Homo sapiens: one gene and its partners. The protein of the gene in region 3 interacts with the protein of the main gene of each other region in a pairwise test. Each region holds a gene or a part of one and is shown on either strand. Other genes may lie near its edges.

Region 1 (3,500 bases), on a different chromosome or scaffold from region 3:
AGCTCCAGGCAGGTGGAGGCCCCAGAGCCCAGGACTAGAGAAGATGCCGCTGGGAGAGGTGAATGCCCTGGGGAGCCCAGCCCTCTCCTGCCGGGGCCTCAGCTGTCCCCAGATCCTCACCCTCACCGGCAGAGTCTGGCATGAATAGGCACAGGTGGCCTCGCTGTGCCCCTGGATAAGGATCCCAACTGGGGCAGAGACTGAGAGCCAGAGTGGGGAAGGAGATGGAGCTTTCCAAGCCCAGGGCTAGCTCTGTTCCTCCCGGGCTCCTCCAGGTGTCCTATTCCTGCCTGTCACCCACCCACGTCCCCAGGCCCAGTGGGACGCTCATCCCAGGCTCTGAGTACGGGAGGCCCCCACCTCACTTCCCCCCACCTCCACTCTCTGGGCCTCCCCCTGTGGCGGGAGGCAGGGCCTTGGGTGGGAGCCGAGGGTCACGGCCTCCCCCTGCCCCCTGTCCTCGCTGTTCTCAGGGGCAAGTGACACGGGCGCAGGAGGCGGAGGAGAACTACGTCATCAAGCGGGAGCTGGCGGTGGTGCGGCAGCAGTGCAGCTCGGCGGCCGAGGACCTGCAGAAGGCACAGAGCACCATCCGGCAGCTACAGGAGCAGCAGGTAGGGGCGGGTGTGCGGGGCTGCTGGGCGGGGCCATGACCCGCGCCCCCGCCCCCGCCCAACGGTTTTCTTTCAGGGCTCATAATCTGCCCCGCCTCAGCACCTGGCCCTCCTGTTCCTTTCTGGGGTAAGGGGAACCCAGAGACAAGCGCAGATTCTCCCCCAGCAGCTCCACATTCTGAGACATCCTGATATCCATTTCTTGCCACCTCATAGTGTGTCTGCAGTATCTGACTTCCCAACCCCCAGCCTCAGCACGGAGGCCTCTGAAGACCGGGCTGTCCCTGCAGGGTTTCCTCTGTGTCACAGGCAGCAGACAGGGCTGTGACTCCTTACGGAGGCTCTTGCCTGTCCCCAGGGTCTGAAGGATTGTTAGGTGTCCCTGGGGGGCCAGCCATGGAGAATGGGAGCAGGGCAGTCCGGGACTGTTTGGGGAGCTCTGAGCCAGCAGGGTGGGGCTGAGGGGGCACCTTGAGTGTCTTGAGGGCCATGAACTTTGGGTCCCATGATGGGCAGGCCCATGAGTGGGGCCCCACCCCAAGATTTTCTTCTCCTGAAAGCTTTTAGAACTTAACTGCGACCTGGTGCAGTGGCTCACGCCTTAATCTCAGCACTTTGGGAGGCTGAGGCAGGTGGATCACCTGAGGTTAGGAGTTCGAGACCAGCCTGGCCAACATGATGAAGCCCCATCTCTAATAAAAATACAAAAATAAGCTGGGTATGGTGGTGCGCACCTGTAGTCCCAGCTACTCAGGAGGCTGAGGCAGGAGAATCACTTGAACCCGGGAGGTGGAGGTTGCAGTGAGCCAAGATGGCACCACCGCACTCCAGCCTGGGTGACAGAGCAAGACTCCATCTCAAAAAAAAAAAAAAAAAAAACTTAACTGCAGCTGCACTCAGCAGTTGGCCTTCCTGATCGCAGGGACCCCCAGTGGCTGCAGTCCTAAGCCCTGCAGGCCACAGGGACACATGCCCTGGAGGGGCCGGGAGCGACGCTGTAGGTCCCGCTGCCATCCTGGCCTGACCCAGCAGGGCCTGGCAGTGGGGTGTAGGTTGGAGAAACCATGGAGTGCTTGAGAAAGAAGAGCCATCCAATACAGAGGTGCCCCCTCCGCCCCCAGGCCCAGAGACTGTGGCTCAAGCCTTGGCCCAGGGATTCTAGCGGATCCACTGCTCCTGGGGAGAAGGAGAGCTTCACTGTTTCTCACTTGTCCCCATGAACCACATCCGTATGATGCTGGCGTTGTGGCCCTCAGAGTCTGTGAGCACTCTTGTCCCACCTTGCTCTGAGGCAGCATGGACATTAGGGAAACTGAGGCTGGGCTCATCCCACCCACTGCATGAGGCCGCCTTTCAGGCTCGTTAGAGAGACTCCACCAGCCACCCCTGAGCTCCAACCTTGGGGGGATGCAGAGATCGGGGAGGCCCAAGGCCACCTCCTCAGGCCCAAAGGGAGGCCACTGCAGGCAAGATGAGGTGGCCCAGAGGAGCCACATGGGGCCTGGAGGCCATCTGGGCCGAGGCAGAGCCACCGTCACACGTGGATCTCAGAGACCCACAGGAAGAGGATGGTGGCTGGGAGGGCTGAGGCAGTCCCCCAGAGAACTGTCCTGCCAGGCCACAAGGTCAGTGAGAGGGAGCCCGGCTCCCACCCCAGGGACCAGGTGTCCTTTTTCAGGTCCAGGTGGCAGTGTCCATCACTCCAGGGGCCCCCACTGGGGAACTTCTGAGAAGCCAGGGCATGGAGCAAGAGGGTGATACCCACAAACTCTTTCCTCATCCTTCCCTGATTTGAAATGGAGGGTGGGATGCAGAGGAGAGAGGTGGAAAGACAGGTGCACAGCCCCAGGCCTCTCCCCCACCCCCTGCCTCGCCCACCATGTGGCTGGAACGGTGACCACCCAGCAAGAACCCATCTCCCACCCTCACCAGTGATCCCGGAAAACCAGTCACTGGGGTCCCGCGGGGCATCCGAAGGCCAAGGCAAGTCACCTTTCAGAATGTCCCCTCTGTGCAGCCTTTCCAGGAAGGAAGCTGGACCGGGCCAGCTGCATGGATGCCAGGACCTCTAGGCCCTGAGCATCAGGGGGTCCAGCCCAGGACACCCCAAGCCTGGGCCCCTCTCCCTGCTGAAGGGCTCTGGGGAGGCGGGGAGAAGCCAGCAGGCATGGAGGCTGCCCATCCCCCAGCCATGGCCTGGGGCCCCACGCAGCTCTCTGCCTCCCCCAGGAGAACCCCCGCCTCACAGAAGACTTCGTGTCCCACCTGGAGACCGAGCTGGAGCAGTCGAGGCTGCGGGAGACGGAGACACTGGGGGCCCTTCGGGAGATGCAGGACAAGGTTCTCGACATGGAAAAGGTGCAATGGGGAGGCAGACGGGCAGGTGTCGGGGGGACCCTGGGGCACAGGAGGGGTCCTGGATAAGCTTTGGGAGTGACCCCAGGTCAGAATCCCCCACCCCCATGCACACACAACCATACATATGCACACACACAGCACAACCCCACGCGGGGCATGCCCACGCTCCTGTATGAGGCAAACTCCAGCAGCGTGGCAGCTTCTATGAGCTTCCCGGATACCTGCATCCCACCTGTGTGTGTTTCCCCCAGTACTGGGTTCCAGGAAGGAAGGGAGGAGAGAGGGGGATGGGGGAGGGGGACAGGAAGGAGAGAAAGGAAGGCCCAGGCCCATTGTGGCTGCCTCCCTACACATTCCCATGCAGACACCATCCCAGGGCTTCTGGGTTCCTCCCCAACTGCTCTCTGACTTGGCATCGACTCCACTCTCCCACGGAGCTCCCAGAGGAAGGAAAGCACCCAGGGACCCATTCACACATTCAGCAGGAGCCATTCCCCACCCCCTCGAGCCTGCACTATTTTGGGAGTC
Region 2 (3,500 bases), on a different chromosome or scaffold from region 3:
TTAAGAAGCTTGACCTAGGGAGGTGGGGGAGGAGGAAAATAAAAATAAAAAAAACAAAAAAGAAGCTGACCTAGGAGATAACCAAACCATTCCACACCATCAGAGAATCTCTTCTACCTCCCTGGTGGTCTTGGAAGTAAATCCCCATTTTAATCCCTTTCAGGTGTTATTTCTGATTGCTGCTGGAAAAAATAATGCTGAGAAAACTAAATAACATGATGTTCATTTATTCATTTGCTCAACAAATATCAAGGGTCATCTGTATACCAGGCTCTGAGCTAAAAACTAAAATGGTCTCAAGACCTCTCTGCACTCAGCCCCTGGCAAGCCTGGCACCATGTAACAATTCTGCCTGACAAACCGCCTGGTTTTTAGTTATTCCATATAATTATCAGAAGTCAGCAGAATGGCCAGGGGTATGGGTTCTGGCATCAGAATTCAGACTCTGCCTGTCTTTTATGTTGCTATGACTTGGAGAAGTTACTTAACATCTCTGAACTTCAACTTCTGGTCCAGTACATATCTACCCCATTGAGTTTATCTGCAAATTCACAAAAATTATCCTCATAAGTCACTCCGCACAGTGCCTGCCATACAACAATTACTCAAAACATTAGCTGGTATTATTGACCAAAGTATTTCCTGCGGCGCTCTGAATTACTGGAAAAGGCAGCATCAAACCACTGCACTGTCAGGTAAATGATTTCCAGCAATATTTCACACTCTTGGAAGCACAGTTAAAAATTGTATTGAGCCCCTGCAATGTCCAAAGCACAAAGCTAAAAATACTGGAGAGAAATCAGAGATAGAAAAAATACCCATTTTTTTGTCCCCTAGAAGAACTTAAAATTTAGGAGAGGAGGCAGAAAATAGTTGTAGAATGTCAACCTTGTGAAAGGCAGAAGTGCACTCCCCCAAAAGATATTCACATCCAAATCCCTGAAATATGGGAATGTTGGTTACTTTATTTGGAAATGTTAAAAGGCGACGTGACTAAGTCAAGATGGGAGATTATGTGGATCACTTGGGATCCTCCCAGTCCATCCGGTAACGCCAGCCCATCCTTCAGACAAGGCGAGTCTTCCCAGTTACTCTAAGTCAACTGCCAAATTATCTGCATCCAGAGACACTCGCCCCATCCTCCAGAGCACACCCACAGTGCTAACTTTATGTTTTTCTGTGTAATTCACATGTTCCCCTATCTCTCCTACAAATGGCAAGTTCTCTGGGAATAGTAACCATATCAACCTGTGCTTTTCCTCACTACGGTACTCCCTGTGCCCAGCACGGTATGGGGTGCATTGTTGGTGCTCAGAAGGCAGTTACTGTTATGAAATAGGAAAGGAGAGGGAACAAAGGAAGAGGGGAATGATGAATACGAAACTGCCCAGGTCTGAGCTTACAACTTAAAGCAACGGAGTAATGGTATGAGGCACTTTGACATCTAGAGGAATGACTGGCACTAAACATCCCTACCTAAGGACGCTTTAGTACCTGTCCTGTGTCCTCACAACACTTAGAAATAGTTCCTGCTGAGCTCTGTGTTCACTGAAGGCATGTGGCCTTTGACATTTGTTGAATGAATATGCAGATGGATGGAATGATGAATGGATGGATGAAATGATAGATGGATAGATGGAAGGATGGGTGGATAGAAGGATGGAATGATGAATGAATGGATGGATGGGCAGACAGACAGATGGAAGGATGGATGGATGGATGGATGCACGGATGGATGGATGGATGGATGGATGCATGGATGGATGGATGGATGCATGCATGGATGGATGGATGGATGGATGGATGGATGGATGGATGATGGATGGAGGGATGGATGGATGGATGGACTGGTAGATGGATGGGTGGATAATGGATGGATGCATGGATGGATGGATGGATGGATGGATGGATGGGTGGATGGGTAGATGGACTGGTGGATGGACTGGTGGATGGATGGGTAGATGATGGATGGATGGACGGATGAATGAACGGGTGGATGGATGGGTGGATGGGATGATGGGTGAATACATGGGTGGAAAGACGGATAACACCTGGATTAACAGAAAAATTGATAGATAAATTCTAAATATTGTGTAGCATAGCTTCTATAATAAAATATTTTTGAAATTTTTGTTGTTTACTCATTTTTTCTTGGCTCTTAGAATATAACTAAGTTAAACAGATCCTCAAACTTGGAATTCTACCTTTCTATGCACATAAATATTTTTAATAAAATCACATTTTGATTTAACTCTTTAATTCATACAAAACAAAACTTAGTGGTCTCTTCATTCTTTGTCTTTTCAATTTGACAGAATTTGAATGTAAGCAAAAAGCCACACTCTCTCTCTCCCCCACTAACTGGCTCCCTTCTGATATTCTTTCCTCTCCCAAAAAGTTCCTGACCCCTAAAGAAGTTATCACTGTACTTTGAAGCTCTTTTTGGTCCACAGCTTCCTTCAATAAGGGTGGTGCTGTCCTACCCAGAAGCTTCACTCTGACCCAATTAACACCCCAGTGTCATCAAATTGTGTCAAATGGAATTTCATGATGCAGATATTATTTATAAGCTCAGGGACAGTTCAGTTCATGTCGCAATGTATTCATATCACCTCTCCTCTAAGATTCTCTGATCCCTTGAAAGTTCTCACCCAGCTGGAAATCGAATATGAACTATATTTAACAGGATTTTAATTGGAAGTAAACACACAGACACACCACACACAGACAATGCAAAGTGCCTAAACTGTCTGGGGCTGATTGAAAAAGAATATTACCAAGTATTAAACATCCGTTTCAGCATATTATTAGAGGCCAGAAGCTCTACATATGGAAGCAGTTTCAGGAAGGCGCTCCAAGAAGCCCACTGCCCAGGCCATTGGCTGCACTCAGCTGGAAGCAGGCAGAGCACGTGCCCAGCGCCACCCTAGGCACAGGGAGCACGACACTGCCGCAGCCCCGCTCGCAATGTTGCAGGTCTCTCAGCGTCTGCTTCTTTCCTACCAGCATGTGCAAGGGAACATAACTGGGAAGGATGCACGTGAGGACTGTAACAAGCAACCTAAATGTGGCAACCCTCTTGACTTTGTATTTAAAAATCACCTTGCCCTCTGCCCAACTCCAATCTCCTCACCCATTTTTCCTCTCAGCCCACCCTCCATACACCTGCCCCCTCCCATAAAGTTCACAGTAATGCATTAAAGCTCATCTGCAGGCTAGCACCATTGCAAACTACATCAAGCTGCCAGCAAAGCTAGACCTTAAACATTTAAGGCCATTCCCCAGAAAAATTAGGGGCCATAGGACAAGGCTGCTGGGGAAACTCCGTGTGTCATACCATACTTCCTAGGTCCCAGGGGCATAGAAATACAAGCAACAAAACTTTATGTTTATTTGTTTTTAAAAAATATCTACAAGAGGGTGGGTTTGTTCTATAACTAATCATTTTCTGCTTATGAAATATAAACGTGTAAGGCTCAAGCATATTAACCTGGTATTAA
Region 3 (4,187 bases):
ATAATTAATGGACATTATTCAATTCTGGCAGAAACAGCCACTCAGATAAGCATCTAAACTCTACTCTCAAGTCCAGAATGTCTTGATGGGCAGGTGGGAGATACGGAGCTTATAAATAGTAAAATCAAGTTGGATTTTGAGCTTACTAGTCTCTTCCCTACCCCTACCCAGGAAAAGTAAATGAAGTCTTCAGTGAATGGCTCTATCTTTTGCTCTTTCCTCTTTTCGGCCAAATCCCAAACGATAAAGGGAATTTGCCACGTGGGTGAGAAATGAGACTGAAGTGATTATCAACTGTGCTGGTTCGCAGTTAGAATTGTGCATGGCAGTAACCTGGGGAAATTAAAAGCAAATCTCTAAGTCTAGGATATCCCCTGAAGATTTTAATATGGTAAATCTAATATTTACTATTAAATATTACTGGGCATGTATGTTTTAAAATATTTCCTTGAAGCTGGGCATGGTGGTGCCTCTAGCCAGAGCAACAGATTAAGACACTGCCTCTAACAGCAACAACACAACAACAACAACAACAATAAAACATTTCTTGGGACACTGATACGCTGCTGGTTAAGAACCACTGAATAGATAAGTGTAATATAAATTCCCATATCTCAAACACACAAAAAATCTCTAGAAGAGCTGGAGATAGGTGCTGCTTCCTTTAAATTTCTCCTTTCCAATAATATTGGCCTGACTTTTACCTGTCTCTACCTCTGTGGTTGGGAAGTGGAAAGGACTATTATTTGCAGTATCTATCAGCATAAGAATAACACCTTTTCTTTGCCACCATCACTTATTCACTGCCATTCATAGGGTCATTAGAAATTTGCTATTGTGGACTCTTTTAATAAGTAGAGACTGACTCTTTCAGGACTCTGAGTCTCTTTGTTATCATTCTGGTGATTAGGTCAATACATCATTATTAAAAGCGGGGTTCTCTCAATTACAATAGCAAAAAATTCTAAACCTTTTTTTAAAGCTGAAGCTCTATTATGGACTGCCTCAGTATGTCAGTTAAGTACATAGAACTGTGGCATAATCAGGATAGCAGTTTTAAACACTGAAAACCATGAAGTTAGTAAGAATACAAAGAATACATATAGGTCATTATTAGAGCTTTAATTGATAAGCCATTGTATTTTTATTTCTGATTTATATTTTCCCTAAAATAAAAAAATTAGGTTACAATATAGAAACTAGAATTATAATTTAATATTATTTTAATAATTTAGTTGCAGCAGTCTTATGAACTAATTATCCATTTGGTGAACAATCTGGGAAAATTAAACATAAATTATAAATGAATGAATGTTGTAAAAGTGCTCAAAGTGGGTATTATGACTCTTAGTAACAATTTTTATTGTATTCTTGGGCCTATTTTGGAAAAAAAAATCTGAAACTAAAGAAAGGAAGTATTTTACATGAAAATACTTGTGTTACATACAATTGCTTGGAGACATATCCATAGCAAATATAAAAATACAAGGTATATAGTCCAAATGTGTCCCATACATGTGTTTAGTTTGTGTCTACAAATTGTCTCAACATGGAAGGTTTAGGAGACTCGTGCACAGATCTGGATTCCAGGCTTCTCTTCAAGAATCCAATCTGGTGTCCCTTGAGCCTATCTCAGGTTTTGGATGCTGTGCAGAGGTTGCCCCTTTCTATGAGGCATGTGGTCTCCATTTTGCTACTGTGCCTACCTAGGTACTTCACTTCCTCAGGTCATCTCCCTTGCCTCTGTAGGGATGACTTTACAAGCCCTGTTTTATAATATATTTTAGTAAATATTTCAAGGTTTTTAAGACATTTTATATTTATTTAAATGTAGAGTCTATATTTTATATAAATCCTTTGGTAATCGGGTTGAACTTTTGAATTTAGATGGTGGTGTTTTATAAACTATTTTTCTTTATACATACCATAAATAATCATCTTCCCATTAGAATGCATGTAAGCTTTTTAAGGTGAATCATGGTATGGTTGCATAGGTTATGCATATTGCAGACAACATTATATTTTTCTCTTCAGCATTGCCTCCTAAAAATGCAAGTAATTGGCCGAGCGCAGTGGCTCACGCCTGTAATCCTAGCACTTTGGGAGGCAGAGGCAGGTAGATCACGAGGTCAGAAGATTGAGACCATCCTGGCTAACACGGTGAAACCCCCTCTCTACTACAAATACAAAAAATTAGCTGGGTGTGGTGGCACACTCCTGTAGTCCCAGCTACTCGGGAGGCTGAGGCAGGAGAATTTCTCGTGCTTGAATCCGGGAGGCGGAGGTTGCAGTGAGCCAAGATGGCACCACTGCACTCCAGCCTGGGCGACAGAGCGAGACTCCATCCCAAATAAATAAATAAATAAAAGATGCAAATAATTTAGTGGCTTTCATTATGCTATAAATAATTCATATAGGTCATTATTAGAGCTTTAATTGATAAGCCATTGTATTTTTATTTCTGATTGATATTTTACCTAAAATAAAAAAAGTAAGAATTAATTGGAAACTAGAATACAAATAGATTTTTAAAGGAGTTATGTACCAGGGTCCTAAGATTATAATTACATAAATATTTGCATCAGGGTCCTAAGATTGTAATTGAGAATAACATTTCATACAGAGCTTTCTGACAGCTAAGATAAAAATATTACTAGAGAAAACCCATGGACTATTTAATAATAAGCAGTGAAAGTTCACTCGAAGCCTATCTCTATTAATTCAGAGCCCGGCTCTCCGAATTAAAAAGAGATAGGCTTCAAATGAACTGTCAATCGTGTCAGAATCTCAGATGACAATGTCAGGTGCTCAGGTGCTCAGGAGCTCCTGACATTGTCACCTGAGATTCTTACACCATCGATAGAAGAGAATGAGGCAAGTGTGTATCACCCAGAGGAAACCTCTACCTTTACTGGTAAGCTCTCACAACTGTATCCCTGAAACTCTCATTTCTCAAATGTTAACATTCTCCAAAATAAGTATTTACAAATAGGGATTAGGTGAAGTTCAAAAGATTTCTCAAATACTAGACACATAATGCAGTTTTGTAACATTTTTCAAACATGGGTGATCATGGAGTCTCTCTTTTGGGGTATAATGTTCAAATTCTGGTAAAGTAAATATCCTTTGGAATATATTAATAGTTTAAGAAACACCGCTCTATAGATAATAATTTAGATCATTAATAAAAATACCTGAAACATTTATTACTGTGTCTTAGAGTTTGAGGACATAGAGAAAAAAATACAGCTGCTGCCCTCAAGAAGCTCTTGGTTCAGGTGGGAAACAATTAAATCCTTGAAACATGCCATGCTAAATGCTGGGACAGAAGCAAAGATTCTTGGAACTGGGAAATGTTTGAAGTGAGTTTTGGAGATGACCAGAGTTCTTGTGGTGAGGCAGAGGAGGTTGTTTCCAGGGGAAGGAGCAGAACATAGAAAAGCACCGAGGAGGGAAAAGAAAGGGACTACCTCTTATGACCTTTCAATTGTATATATTGAAGCTCACAGGATCTTACTTACATAAGGTTTTCAGTTCAGTTGATAAATATGTAATTTTGTGATTATAAATTGTTGCTGTTATTTTACAGTGTGAATATCAGCCACTGTTATTTGCTGTGAGTCGAAGAAAAGTGAAAATGGTGGAATTTTTATTAAAGAAAAAAGCAAATGTAAATGCCATTGATTATCTTGGCAGGTACAGACCTTAGTTCTTATTGTGTCGTTTTTAAACCTGAGTGTCATTTTAGTGTGGTAGCAGTCCCTCAAGTCACAAATATTACATTAATAAGAAGACTAACTTGTAATTATTGGGATATAGTGAGAAATAACACAGATCATCACTTAGGTAGGAAAACAATTATTTGGACTGAGTAACATAAAGAACAGTGTATAGCAGGATTCGTCTCTCTCTATAGACATTATACACATAAAAGGCTTCTATATATAGAAAGCTCTGTATATTGATAGATGTTTGTTATTTGTAATATGATGTGGTGTTATTTACAATGTAATAATGTGATGCTTTTGATTGTATGATCTTACATTAGCTAAAGGGGTTTCATGTTAGTTTTTCATTTCTACTGTGTTTTGATGTTGTTTTTAATTGATATGGGGAGGGGGAGAAAAGATAGCTTTAAATGGATAAAACTTTAATGAAGACAAGCTTTAGGTTCACACAGGACTGGG

What was found. The genes of interacting proteins can lie anywhere in the genome.
Region 1: the proteins of ANKRD36 (region 3) and EVI5L interact in a two-hybrid assay, tested with the Homo sapiens proteins (one large-scale study listed by BioGRID).
Region 2: the proteins of ANKRD36 (region 3) and TMEM132D interact in a two-hybrid assay, tested with the Homo sapiens proteins (one large-scale study listed by BioGRID).

The regions. Positions count from the first base shown.
Region 1 is NC_000019.10:7,857,718-7,861,217, forward strand, and holds part of EVI5L (EVI5-like protein), read left to right. Parts: intron 1-473; coding exon 474-614; intron 615-2,843; coding exon 2,844-2,972; intron 2,973-3,500. UniProt on the Homo sapiens protein: Functions as a GTPase-activating protein (GAP) with a broad specificity.
Region 2 is NC_000012.12:129,897,526-129,901,025, forward strand, and holds part of TMEM132D (transmembrane protein 132D precursor), read right to left. Parts: intron 1-3,500. UniProt on the Homo sapiens protein: Regulate neuronals morphology via inhibition of the WAVE regulatory complex (WCR), a complex that controls F-actin cytoskeletal dynamics.
Region 3 is NC_000002.12:97,119,298-97,123,484, forward strand, and holds part of ANKRD36 (ankyrin repeat domain-containing protein 36A), read left to right. Parts: intron 1-3,589; coding exon 3,590-3,696; intron 3,697-4,187.